Homo sapiens: one gene and its partners. The protein of the gene in region 2 binds, or shares a complex with, the protein of the main gene of each other region. Each region holds a gene or a part of one and is shown on either strand. Other genes may lie near its edges. The genes, in order: RBBP4, LIN37 and LIN9. A codon is read from its position in the direction of its gene.

The links.
Region 1: the proteins of LIN37 (region 2) and RBBP4 are in contact, whole or in part, in a crystal structure (PDB 7N40), measured with the Homo sapiens proteins. Residues at the interface, in NP_061977.1 of Homo sapiens: Asn112 (codon at 1,940), Thr113 (codon at 1,937), Pro114 (codon at 1,934), Leu115 (codon at 1,931), Tyr116 (codon at 1,928), Pro117 (codon at 1,925), Arg120 (codon at 1,916), Arg124 (codon at 1,904); in NP_005601.1 of Homo sapiens: Thr37 (codon at 994), Ala39 (codon at 988), Leu40 (codon at 985), Glu41 (codon at 982), Tyr98, Asp99, Ser100, Glu101, Lys102, Gly103, Glu104, Phe105, Gly106, Lys114, Glu116.
Region 3: the proteins of LIN37 (region 2) and LIN9 are in contact, whole or in part, in a crystal structure (PDB 7N40), measured with the Homo sapiens proteins. Residues at the interface, in NP_061977.1 of Homo sapiens: Tyr95 (codon at 1,991), Ile97 (codon at 1,985), Leu99 (codon at 1,979), Phe100 (codon at 1,976), Asp101 (codon at 1,973), Arg102 (codon at 1,970), Val104 (codon at 1,964), Leu106 (codon at 1,958), Ala107 (codon at 1,955), Phe109 (codon at 1,949), Ser110 (codon at 1,946), Glu111 (codon at 1,943), Asn112 (codon at 1,940), Thr113 (codon at 1,937), Pro114 (codon at 1,934), Leu115 (codon at 1,931), Tyr116 (codon at 1,928), Ile118 (codon at 1,922), Cys119 (codon at 1,919), Arg120 (codon at 1,916), Trp122 (codon at 1,910), Met123 (codon at 1,907), Asn125 (codon at 1,901); in NP_001353174.1 of Homo sapiens: Lys99, Ala101, Ser102, Gln103, Lys104, Ile105, Gly106, Arg108, Leu109, Arg110, Leu112, Leu113, Lys114, His119, Trp121, Cys122, Ile123, Glu125, Trp126, Phe127, Thr227, Leu237, Phe238, Leu272, Ser273, Asn274.

What each region holds. Positions count from the first base shown.
Region 1 is NC_000001.11:32,649,253-32,652,999, reverse strand, and holds the start of RBBP4 (histone-binding protein RBBP4), read right to left. Parts: upstream 1,793-3,747; 5' UTR 1,694-1,792; coding exon 1,678-1,693; intron 1,645-1,677; exon of another isoform or gene 1,568-1,644; intron 1,087-1,567; coding exon 939-1,086; intron 1-938. Other genes in the region: ZBTB8OS (protein archease), read left to right, coding at 2,435-2,567. UniProt on the Homo sapiens protein: Core histone-binding subunit that may target chromatin assembly factors, chromatin remodeling factors and histone deacetylases to their histone substrates in a manner that is regulated by nucleosomal DNA.
Region 2 is NC_000019.10:35,751,492-35,755,082, reverse strand, and holds the end of LIN37 (protein lin-37 homolog), read right to left. Parts: intron 2,908-3,591; coding exon 2,832-2,907; intron 2,650-2,831; coding exon 2,599-2,649; intron 2,280-2,598; coding exon 2,250-2,279; intron 2,170-2,249; coding exon 2,084-2,169; intron 1,997-2,083; coding exon 1,830-1,996; intron 1,067-1,829; coding exon 926-1,066; intron 838-925; coding exon 764-837; intron 691-763; coding exon 609-690; 3' UTR 564-608; downstream 1-563.
Region 3 is NC_000001.11:226,232,456-226,236,202, forward strand, and holds part of LIN9 (protein lin-9 homolog), read right to left. Parts: intron 1,069-3,747; coding exon 889-1,068; intron 739-888; coding exon 641-738; intron 152-640; coding exon 46-151; 3' UTR 1-45. UniProt on the Homo sapiens protein: Acts as a tumor suppressor. Inhibits DNA synthesis. Its ability to inhibit oncogenic transformation is mediated through its association with RB1. Plays a role in the expression of genes required for the G1/S transition.

The DNA of each region.
Region 1 (3,747 bases), on a different chromosome or scaffold from region 2:
GGTGTTTTCTAGGTACCCTAATTATCTCTCTACAACTGCTGTCACCATATATAACTATAATTATTAGTTTATATCTGCCACTTCAACTAGACAATGTGCTCCTTGAAGGCAGGTACCATGACATACTACGAGAATTCAAATTAAGTTTTGTTGAGGCCAGGTGCAGTGGCTCACGCCTGTAATCCCGGCACTTTGGGAGGCAGAGGCGGGCGGATCACCAGAGGTCAGGGGGTTGGAGACCAGCCTGTCCCACATGGTAAAACCCCGTCTCTACTAAAAATACAAAAAAATTTAGCCAGGCGTGGTGGCAGGTGCCTGTAATCCCAGCTACTTGGGAGGGCTTAGGCAGGAGAATCGCTCGAATCTGGGAGGCAGAGGTTGCAGTGAGTCGAGCTCGCGCCACTGCACTCCAGCCTGGACAACAGAGTGAGACACCGTCTCAAAAAGAAAAACAAAAAATTTTTGTTGTAAGGACTAGACTCATTGTAATACTTTTTTCTTTTTTTGTGTGGGGGGCAGTAGAGACGAGGGTATTCCCAGGGCTGGTCTCCAACTCCTGGCCTCAAGTAAGTCTCCTGCCTGGGCCTCCCAAAGTGCTCGGATTCCAAGTGTGAGCCACTGCTCCTGGCCATAATACTTTTTGAAAGTTGACAAGTTTTGTACTATTATTTGGTACAGCCACTATTATTACAGGTATTATCATCAGCTACAGCTATTTAATTCAGTATTGAGAAAAAAACGCCAATATGTTTTCTCTTGTCAGGTAAGTTACAAAATCATTTTGTTATTTTGCCTTACTTTGTGGCCTAGAAAAAATGTCACCAAGAGGTTTTGATCACATGCCTTCTCCGGGTGACTGAAGAGCGGAAAAAAGAAAATCAATATGAGAAATCTACACTGAAAATACATCAAAATAACGTTCGGGAGAGTCATGTCACCTGGTTACATCTGGAAGCCACTGGGCAGTTAGGCTGGGCCACTCCAGAGCATGGGTCATCACCAAATCATAAAGAAAAGGGGTGTTCTTTTTCCATATTTTGTATTCCTCGTTGATCACTCGTTCTTCCACTGCGTCGTCGAAGGCTGCTAAAATTTTTAAAAACAAATTTAAGTTAGCAAACAAACGGAAACCGAGTAATCCTCTGCAAAGCCACCTGCATGACTCCTACAGCCTAACCATGAAATGGAGGTGATTTGTCTAAATCCCCACGGCAGAGGCATCCACACTCTCCACTTTCGCGGCGCCGAAACTCCTCGGGCCATCCCCGCCAAACACTCCGTTACCCGTTCCAGGCCAAGGGGCCAGCCAGGCCTTCGGAGCACGCTCGTGCGCGCCGAAACTCACAAGCCCGACGAGGAGGCCCGAGCTCCGAGCCTTGTGGGTAGGAAGCGGTGTCCCCACGCTCGGGACAGAGGCCGAGAAACCGATATCGGAGGCAGGAAGAGAAACAAACACTGGCCGGGGGCCCCACCGCTGGCTTCGCCAGCTGCGACCGAAATCGGTCCCAGGGAACTGGCGAGCCGTTAGCACGCCCCGCGGGGAGTTCCCTCTTCACGCCTTCAGTACCGGGGACTGCACTCGGCAAACTCGGGCCTGCCCTCACTGTTAGGCCATGTCGAGGCCGCGGCTCAGCCCAGGCACCCACTGCCCTCCTGGGTCGGCCCCGGCACCCTCACCTTCCTTGTCGGCCATGGCGGGCAGGCGAGCCGGGGGAATCCTGGGGTCGAGCGTTGCGGGAGGGGCGGGGAGGCTGCAAGAGCTCGCTCTGTGCGCGCGGCCTCTATTGTTTCCTGCGCCCCCAGCGCGAGGGCTGACTCGCGCACCTTCGCGCCAACATCAGCCAATGGGAGCGCTCCTAATGGCGGGATGGGCGGGGAAGCCGCGTTCGCGACCAATCCAGACGCGCGGAGTAGCTTTCCGCGGGGACCGAGGCGCGCGCTCCGCCCCTCCCCCCACGCCTCCCCGAGCCGACTTCCAGCGATTGCGCGCGCCGGCGTTGACGGGACTGCGCCCGGTCAGGGTCACGTGAGAGAGGTTTGGTCCGCACACTCCCGCGGCAAGAGGGCAGCCATTTTCTTGAAGGCTATTAAGCTTACGACCCTTTCAGAGTACTGAGATGAAAAATCTAGAATGCCTTCGGGTCTAGTTATCAATTTTGGGGGTGAAGCGGGGGAAAGAACCTCGCCAGTCAGACCCAGACGGGTTTCATTCAAGGTGCCCTTCAACGTTTTTCCTTAGTCTTTGGAAAGAACTAGTAATGAAGGAATCGCAGAAGATGGGGTTTTGGCTTTTTAAATATGCGATCCAAGCGGCAGGGTAGGGACTAAAGTAGGTCAACAGCCAACTCCGAGAAAGGAGTGTGGTCCTTTAAGGGTGTGCGCCAAGGGGCGGAGTCTAGAGCGGAAGTAGTAACTCCGGGCCGAAGTCCGGTGGATGAAGGGCGGAAGTAGAGTGTCTAATCCTGCAGTCATGGCGCAGGAAGAGGAAGATGTTAGAGATTACAATTTGACTGAAGAACAGAAGGCGATCAAGGCCAAGTATCCGCCAGTCAATAGGAAGTACGAGTGTGAGTAGGTGGCTTACTTCTCTCTTTACATGTAAGCACACAGGCATCCCCTCTCCTTACCCGCGGCTTCCTGCTGCTCTTTCTACTGTGCCCCATGGGTACTTCAGGCATGATCCCATTTGTGCCGGCTGTTGTAGTCGCGTTCGTACTTCTCCTGGGGATGCTGAAGGAAAAAGCCACCTGGTTTAATAGTCGCGAAACCTGGCCTCCCTCATTTACAGTCTCTTGAACTTCTTCCACATGTGCCTAATCACATTTATCTTCGTAAATTCTAAAGATAACCATATTTTCAGGCGTTTGCAGGGTTGTTACCCCCATGTATTTCCCAACGGTGAGATTAGAGTGTGCGAGGTTAGAGGACTCGGAAAGCTAATTAGGGGATTTCTAACTTGATGTTTCACCTCGATCATATTAGCAAAAAACCTGGTTTTGCCATTTATGATTGTGATTTTTAAAAATGATTATTTTAGGCCGGGCTCGGTGGCTGAGGCCTGTGATCCCAGCACTTTGGGAGGCCGAGGCGGGCGGATCACCTGAGGTCGGAAGTTCGAGATCAGCCTGACCAACATGGAAAAACCCCGTCTCTACTAAAAATACAAAATTAGCTGGGCGTGGTGGAGCATGTCTGTAATCCCAGCTACTCGGGAGACTGAGGCAGGAGAATCGCTTGAACCCGGGAGGCGGAGGTTGCGGTGAGCCGAGATCGCCCCATTGCACTCCAGCCTGGGCAACGAGCGAAACTCTGTCTCAAAAAAAAAAAAAAATGTGTGTGTGTGTGTGTGTGTGTGTGTGTGTGTGTTTTTAGAGATGGGGTCTCGCTCTGTCGTCCAGGCTGGAGTGCAATGGAGCGATCATAGCCCGCGCTGCAGTGCCCAGCTGGTTTTGCCATTTATTCGCTTAGTGACTTTAGGCAAATCACATAACCTATCTTTGTCTCTTAAATTCTATATTAAACGTTAAGCTGTCATCCCTAAAGGTAGCTGTGGTTTGGGGAGCACAAATCTGACTTTTATTTATCTGCTTAAAATCTTTCATTAATTTCTCATTGTCCTCTCTGTAAAATCTACTTATTTACCATAGTATTCTAGGCAATGTGCTTTCTGGAGCTGGCATACCTCCTAGCATATCCCCTTCTCTCACTTAAAAACAATTTTAAAATATTATAGGCCGTTTGCGGTGG
Region 2 (3,591 bases):
CCAGTCAGGCACAATCCCCCCACCCCCCAAACGTCCTGGACTGCACAGACCTCCCACTCCAGACCATCCAGGCCTGGTTCCCAAGACCCGATCCTTCCCCTGCAACCAGACAGTCTACAACTGCCCCCTCCAGCCCATTTTCTGCCGTGAAACCCCAGCCAGCCACACCAGACTCTGGAACCCTTTTTCGACTGCCCCAACTCTTGGACACCAGGCCAACTAGAACACCCAACACCAAACTGTACAGACTCTCCCACCCCAACCTCCCCAGACTCTGCACGGATGTCCTAGGCCCCCTCCCCAACTCTAACCAGACCCCATCCCCCTAAGTCCCTTTGTCTTGACCCCCAAGTCTTCAACCAGATATCCTCGGCAACCCACCTCCCACCCTCCTCCTCTTCTCCTTCAAGACCCAACTGAGCACCCGCTCTGATTCCCCACAGCCTTTCTCCCTGCCACCACTCCCTTAGTCTTTCCCAGGCTTACTCTCCCAATAAATGTGCTAGAGCTCTGCCAACTGCTTTGTGCCTGGGCCAGGAAGGAGGGACCGGAGCAGACACCAGTGTGGAGCTGGGGGATGTTTACTGGTGTGGGGGGACCTGGGAACATCACTGTCGTTCGTACATCTCTCGTAGGATCTTCATGCTTTCTGAGTAACGAAGCTGGTTCCGATGAGAGGCCTCCTTCCACCTGGGGAGGCAGAGGGGAGACTCAGCAGTTGCAAAGGGCCCTACGAGGGGCAAGCAGGCTGGGGGACGCTCACCTCTGGCGGATGCGTTTCCAGCGCTGCATGTTGCGATAGATGAGTGTGGAGGGTGAGGGCTCGGGCTCAGAGGGCTGCATGGACAGACAGGCCAGGTTGAGTGGCCATTCCTGAGCCCTACCGCATGTGCCCCATAACCCTGGGCCAGCCTGGCATACTCACCTCATCGTCAGGGGTGCCCTGCATCTCAGGCTGCAGTGGAGATGGGATGCGGGATCTGCAGGCATCTCCGGGTGGCCCCGGGGGTGTGGGTGGCGGCAGCTTGTACACATCACGACTCTTGCTGTTGGTTACCTCTGAGCCCTGGGGACACAAGGGCCCCATGCCAGGCCCAAGAGAGTCAAAGCAGAGGGGCTGGGAATCCACATTCATCCCTCCTGCCTTTCCCAGCAACAAATGGCATGAGGGGCTCGCTAAGGGACTCAGACAGGAGGCATGTATGAAGGGCAGACACCTCAACCAGCCAGCGGGTCAAGTGTGCCTGCCCCAGGGACCCCTGTCTTCTCCTATCCAGCCCAGAGACTCCATCTACACCTGTCAGCCCAGGGAGTCGCGTCTGCCTGCCTCAGGGAATCCTGTCTAGGGGGTCACGTCTGTGCCACCTAGGAAGCTCTGTCCATTTCTGACAGTCCTATATGTCTGAAGGGTCCTATATGTCTGTCCTGGGGACCCTTGTCTACCCCGCTGGGTCAGATGGCTTATAGACTCCCATCCATTCCTGCCCAGCCCCTGCTCCTCAAGGCCTGGTGGCCACTTCTGTCTGTACTAAGGACCCTTGTCTAGCCCCTCGGCTCTTGGGAACCCCTGATCTTGGAGGTCCACATCTAACTGTCCAGGGTAACCCTGTTCCCTGTCTCCCAGGCCAGGTGGTTACGTATGTCTTCCCTAGGGACTCTGATCCACACCCCAACCTAAGAGTGCACATCTGTGTGCCTAGCCTGATCCAGGATTCACGTGAGGGACCTGTGTCTGTCTATCCCACTAGCTTAGGGGCAGGATCCTTTGAGCCTATCCACCCACTGCCCTGGCACCAGGCTGCTGGGCTGGGACCCACTACCCATCCCACCTCCTCATCCTCAGGCAGCGGGGGCAGGGGTGAGCTGGGAGAGCATTCACGCTCGCGCACAGAGGGGCTGTTGCGCATCCAGGCGCGGCAGATTGGGTACAGTGGCGTGTTCTCGCTGAACTGGGCCAAGTCCACGCTCCGGTCGAACAGCTTGATCACATATGTGTCTGGGAAGGTGGGGATGGGAGGTGTGTGAGCATCCTTGCATAGGCCCTTGGCTCCTTACCGACCCTCTAGGGCCACTGTCTACTCACTGGATCGCTGCGGCCCTCCCTCAGCCAGCCCATCATCCATCTCCCTCCTCTTCTTCCTCCGCTGGTGGGGGAAGCGGGCAGATGGCCTGCGTAGGGAGAGGGAGTGTCAGGACTGGGGTAGGAGCTGGGAGCCTCTAGTCAGCTGGCTGGGACCCTGCCACCTTACCTTTTGCCAGTGGCTGCGATGGAGCAGTCCCTGTGGGGAAAGACAGTTGACCCTCAGACAAACGCCTGTGCAAAACCCTGCAGAGGGCACCCTGGGGATACTGGTATCAAACCTGAGATGCTCACATGAACCCCACTTGCCTCTTGGGCCTTTTGTCCCACCCATACCCATGGGGGTCTAGGTGGCAACCACGGGGGGACCTAAGCTTCTCCTGCCACAGGGTCTTTGTACAGGTGGAGTGGTCCGGGCCACGATGGAGGTAGCGCTGGGCTGAGCGGTCAGGGCTTGGATAAGGAAAGAAGTTACCAACCACGAACTCTCAACTCCAAATCCAATCAGAAAAACTCACTTATTGTGGGTGTCTGAGGGTGTTTTCCCAGCTTCCTCATCCAGACGCTCCCTAGAGGCAGAAGAGATCTCTCAGCTCAGGGTTCCAGGGCCCCAGAGAAGGAAGGCACCGAGCAGCCTCCCCATTAAGCACCTTCCTCCCCAAGTCAGCCTGTGGGGTCCCACCCAATCCACCCAGGATCAGAGGGCCCAACCCACCAGGGTGCCCGGCCCTGTGACCCCACGCTGGCCTACCTGTCCATGTGACTCTTCTCCAGCAGACACTGCAAGACAGCATCCAGTTGGTTCCGGGCTTTGGCCATCTCCAGCTCTGGGGCAAGAGAGGACCCAGCAGGAGTCAGCTCCCAGGCCCCAGCTAGGTGGGCAGCTGACTGGGCCAGGGAAGGGCGTGCGTGTCCTCTGCCCTGGCCAATCTCAGAGCCAGGCCCAGGCAGCCTGAAAGGGTGCAACAGGCAGAGATGGCTGGAGTGATGCCCAGAGCTCTGAGTTCCAGAGCTGTCCCACGTGATTGCTCTGTGACAGGAGGTAAGGCCAATCACCTTACCTTATGAGCCTTTTGGGTTTTAAAAAAATGTGTTTTAATATAATATAAATTTATTACAAAAAAATTGTATAGAGATGGAGTCTTAATGATATTGACCAAGCTGGTCTTGAACTCCTAGATTCAGGTGAGCCATCTCGGCTTCCCAAAGTGCTGGGATTACAGGTGTGAGCCACTGTGCCTGTCCCAGTGGCAAGGTTTAAATATGCTATATATTACAAATAATAACCCACTGAATTATCACAATAACCCTTAGAGGTAGATGTGATTTTTTTTTTTCTTGAAAAAGGATATCACGATGTTGTCCGGTTTTGAACTCCTGGGCTCAAGCGGTCCTGCTGTCTCAGCCTCCCAAGTAGCTGGGGCTATAGGCACATGCCATAGAGCCCAGCTCAGATAGATATGATTTTTATTCCTATTTTAAAGATGATGAAACTGAGGCACAGAGATGTT
Region 3 (3,747 bases), on a different chromosome or scaffold from region 2:
TCTCAAAAACAATGTCCCGTGCAGTTGGAATAATGAAATCTTTACTCAGTCTCTGTTGGTGTTATTTGCTGCAAAGGCATGTAAGTTTCCCATCTGGCTCAGGCCACTCTGAATATGTGCAACATGGATTTCTACATTATTCTGAAAGCAACTAAAGAAAGAAGAAACATGGTTAACTACTTTATTTCAAAAAATTAAGAAAAAAATTTTTAAAAGAAGACCTGAATTTTAGTTAGGAAACAGCTATGATAAATCTTAGGGAAGGAATAAATCTCCTCTAATATATTAGCCATAATTCTACTTCAGTAGTAGTTGAACAAATATGCTCTAAAGAAGCAAAGGAGCCACGGGGGGCTGGAAGGAGAAGATGAGTCTCTCACTGACTGGGGAAGCTCTACCTCTAAGCTCAACCTCCATGCTGACCCCAAACCTAAATATATGTCCTGATTTCTTTATATACAAAATCCATGTGAAATTTCTATTCTGTCCATAGGCTGGATATAAGTGAAAAGCTCTTACAAATATATTTAACGGATAATAATATATGAGTACTTCACAAATATGCATAATTCTTAAAACCTGGACTGAAAATTACTATGAACTTCACATTAAAATGATTAGAGTATACCTAACGAATTACCTGATATTAGAAGCGTCTATTGTACTCTTGATATCATTTAATGAGTCTGTAAGTGATTTGAATTCAAAGGAATTCAGGTCTCCTCCTTCTGCTAGACACTAAAGGGAAAAAAATTTCAAAATTTAATTGCATTATAGCTCAAATATAGTCATAAAATACCTGATATAATCAATGAATTAATTTCTTAGCAACAAATTAGCGTGGGTTGCTTTGTGTCAAATTAAGAAAATATTTTCTCTAAGATTTACCTTAATTTGTAACAAAATAGCTGTAAGCCTGGAAATTAAGTCTGTCAGATTTTCATTTTCAACGCAGGGCTGTCCTGTTGAGGAATTTGCATGCCGAACAATTTCCTGTGCTTCTTCCTCACACCTGCGTCTCATATCTGTTGGCTGATCTGCAGGCTGGAGCCCCTGGTCTGGAGCAAGCTGAATACAGATGATTGAAGCATGAGACGCATGTTCGAGAAGCCATGATTATTTCTGTATGTGTTTGTGCCCTCTTTTCAGATTTTAATTTTTATAAAACTAGCATTTAAAACTAAAGTGGTACTCTTACCTTAGAAGTTTTTTTCCTTTAACAGTTTCTGATTTTCTATTTTTTGTAATTTTTAATTTTGATATAATTTCAAACTTCTAAAAAAAGTTAAAAGAATAAAACAAAGAACTCTTGATAACATTTACTCAGATTTACTGTTTATGTTTTACTACATTTGATCTGCCATTTGATCTCTGTGAATGTATAATTCTTCCCGTTACTAATTTAAGAATAAGTTGCAAACACTGTGCCTCATTACCTCTAATCACTCCAGTTTGTATTTCCTTGGTATTTTTGAAGAGTACGAGCCAATTATTTTGTGTAATATCCCCCAATGTGGGTTTGTTTGTTTCCTTATGATTAGACTGAAGTTATGCATTTTTGGGCAGAAATACTACAAATGTGGTGCTGAGTTCTCTGGCATCTTTATTAGAAGGCACGTGATGTTGACCTGTCCCATTACTGGTGATGTTCTCTTTGATCAATTGGTAAGTTAAGTGTCTGCCAGATTTCCCTACAGTAAAGGATTTCCTTTTTGTAAGTACTAAGTAGTTGTGAAGAGATACTTTGAGGCTATGTAAACATCCTATTTGTCATCAAACTTTTACCTACCAATTTTAGCATCTGTTGATGATTCTTGTCTATATCAATTATTACTATGATGGTTGCAAAATGGTGTTTTTCTCACTCTTAACACTGCTTCTATATTTATTAGTTGGCATTTTACTACAAAGTAGTTTCCCTTAAAAAATGAACTAGTATCAGTATGAACCCATACTGACATAACTTTTATTCTATGGGTTATAATCTCTTACTATATTTATTTATTCTGAAGCTCAAATTGTCCCAGATTTGGCCAGTGGGAACCCTGTCAAGCTGGCCCTTTTTGACACGTCCCCGTAATTTGGGGGCACATTTTACTTCCTTGGCATAATAAGGTGGGCCGGGCTCATCTTCTTTCTCTGCCTCAGGTCTGGAATCAGTCTCTTTTTCAAGAAGTCCTGCTTTTTTAAATTGGAGAACAGAGATAAGAGACCAAGATCTGGGTCTAGTGTGTTCTTTGCTATTAGGGTGTCTTTGCTTTTGGCTCTCTCAGCAGACATATACACTCACTTATACATATAGCATAAAGATAAAATAAACCATGAATTCATACTGATTCCCCCTATTCCCATCTAATGCCACAGGGTTCACTCTAGTCTTCCCCCTCTTCATAACTGCCTTCTTCAACAGTGAGAAACCTGGCTCGCGTTATCCTAAATTTTTTTTTTTTTTTTTTGAGACAGTCTCACTCTGTTGCCCAGGCTGGAGTGCAGTGGTGCGATCTCAGCTCACTGCAACCTCTGCCTCCCAGGTTCAATATACTTATTTGCTTCTTTGCTCAGTCCTAGAGTACACAGTAAGAGTTTCAGAACTGCTGCTGGGTGTGGTGGCTCATGCCTGTAATCCCAGTACTTTGGGAGGCCGAGGTGGGTGGATCACCTGAGGTCAGGAGTTCAAGACCAGCCTGGCCAACATGTCTCTACTAAAAATATAAAAATTAGCTGGGCATGGTGGTACATGCCTGTAATCATAGCTACTGGGGAGGCTGAGGCAGGAGAATCGCTTGAACCCCGGAGGCAGAGGTTGCAGTGAACCGAGATTGCGCCCCTGTACTCCAGCCTGGTGGACAAGAGCGAAAATCCGTCTCAAAAAAAAAAAAAAAAAAAAAGAGTTTCAGGACTGCTATGCATGCCACCAAGAGAAAAAATTCTACTAACTAGAGTTCAATGTTTATTTAAATTTTGGTTCAGACTAAAGGTATACAGTCAAAATATAAGTTGAGTATCCCTTATCCAAAATGCTTGGGACCAGAAGTGTTTTGGATTTAGGATTTTTTAAAATTTTAGAATATTTGCATTATACTTACCGGTTGAGAATCCCAAATACAAAACTCCAAAATCCAAACTGCTCCAGGGAGCATTTCCTTTGAGTTTCACTTTGGCACTCAAAAAATTTTGGACTTTGGAGCATTTCAGACTTGGGATGCTCAACCTATGCTATGTTCAAGCTATCTGAATCAGTTTTTATCCCCTTCAGTAAGTTTATGTCACTCCTTTGAAATATAGTTAGGTTCATTTATTTCTGTTTGCATTTACTTGTATTTGTTGGGGAAACAAACACTCAGAAAAATGTCATTCCTTCTTGCTCACCAACTCCTACCCCATTCCCAAATTAGTTTCTAATGTATCCTTTCTGCTTCCTTTTGAAAAATTAAGCTGATACATATACATTGTATTTCCACTTATTTCCTACTCCAAAGGTTATACTTTGGAATATGTATGTGTATTTTCGTATTTGCTTTTTGCATCTAATAACATATCCTGGAAATCACTCTGTGTCAGTAAATAGAGAACTTCCTCTCTTACAGCAGCATAGTATTCAATTGTGTGGATGTACCATAAATAGTCAGTTCCCTATGTGTGGGCATTTATGTTTATTTCTAATATTTTTTAATTACCAATAATGCTTCAATGAATAACTGTATCCTTTAATACTTTTCTAAAATTTAAATTGAAGCATACATAAAT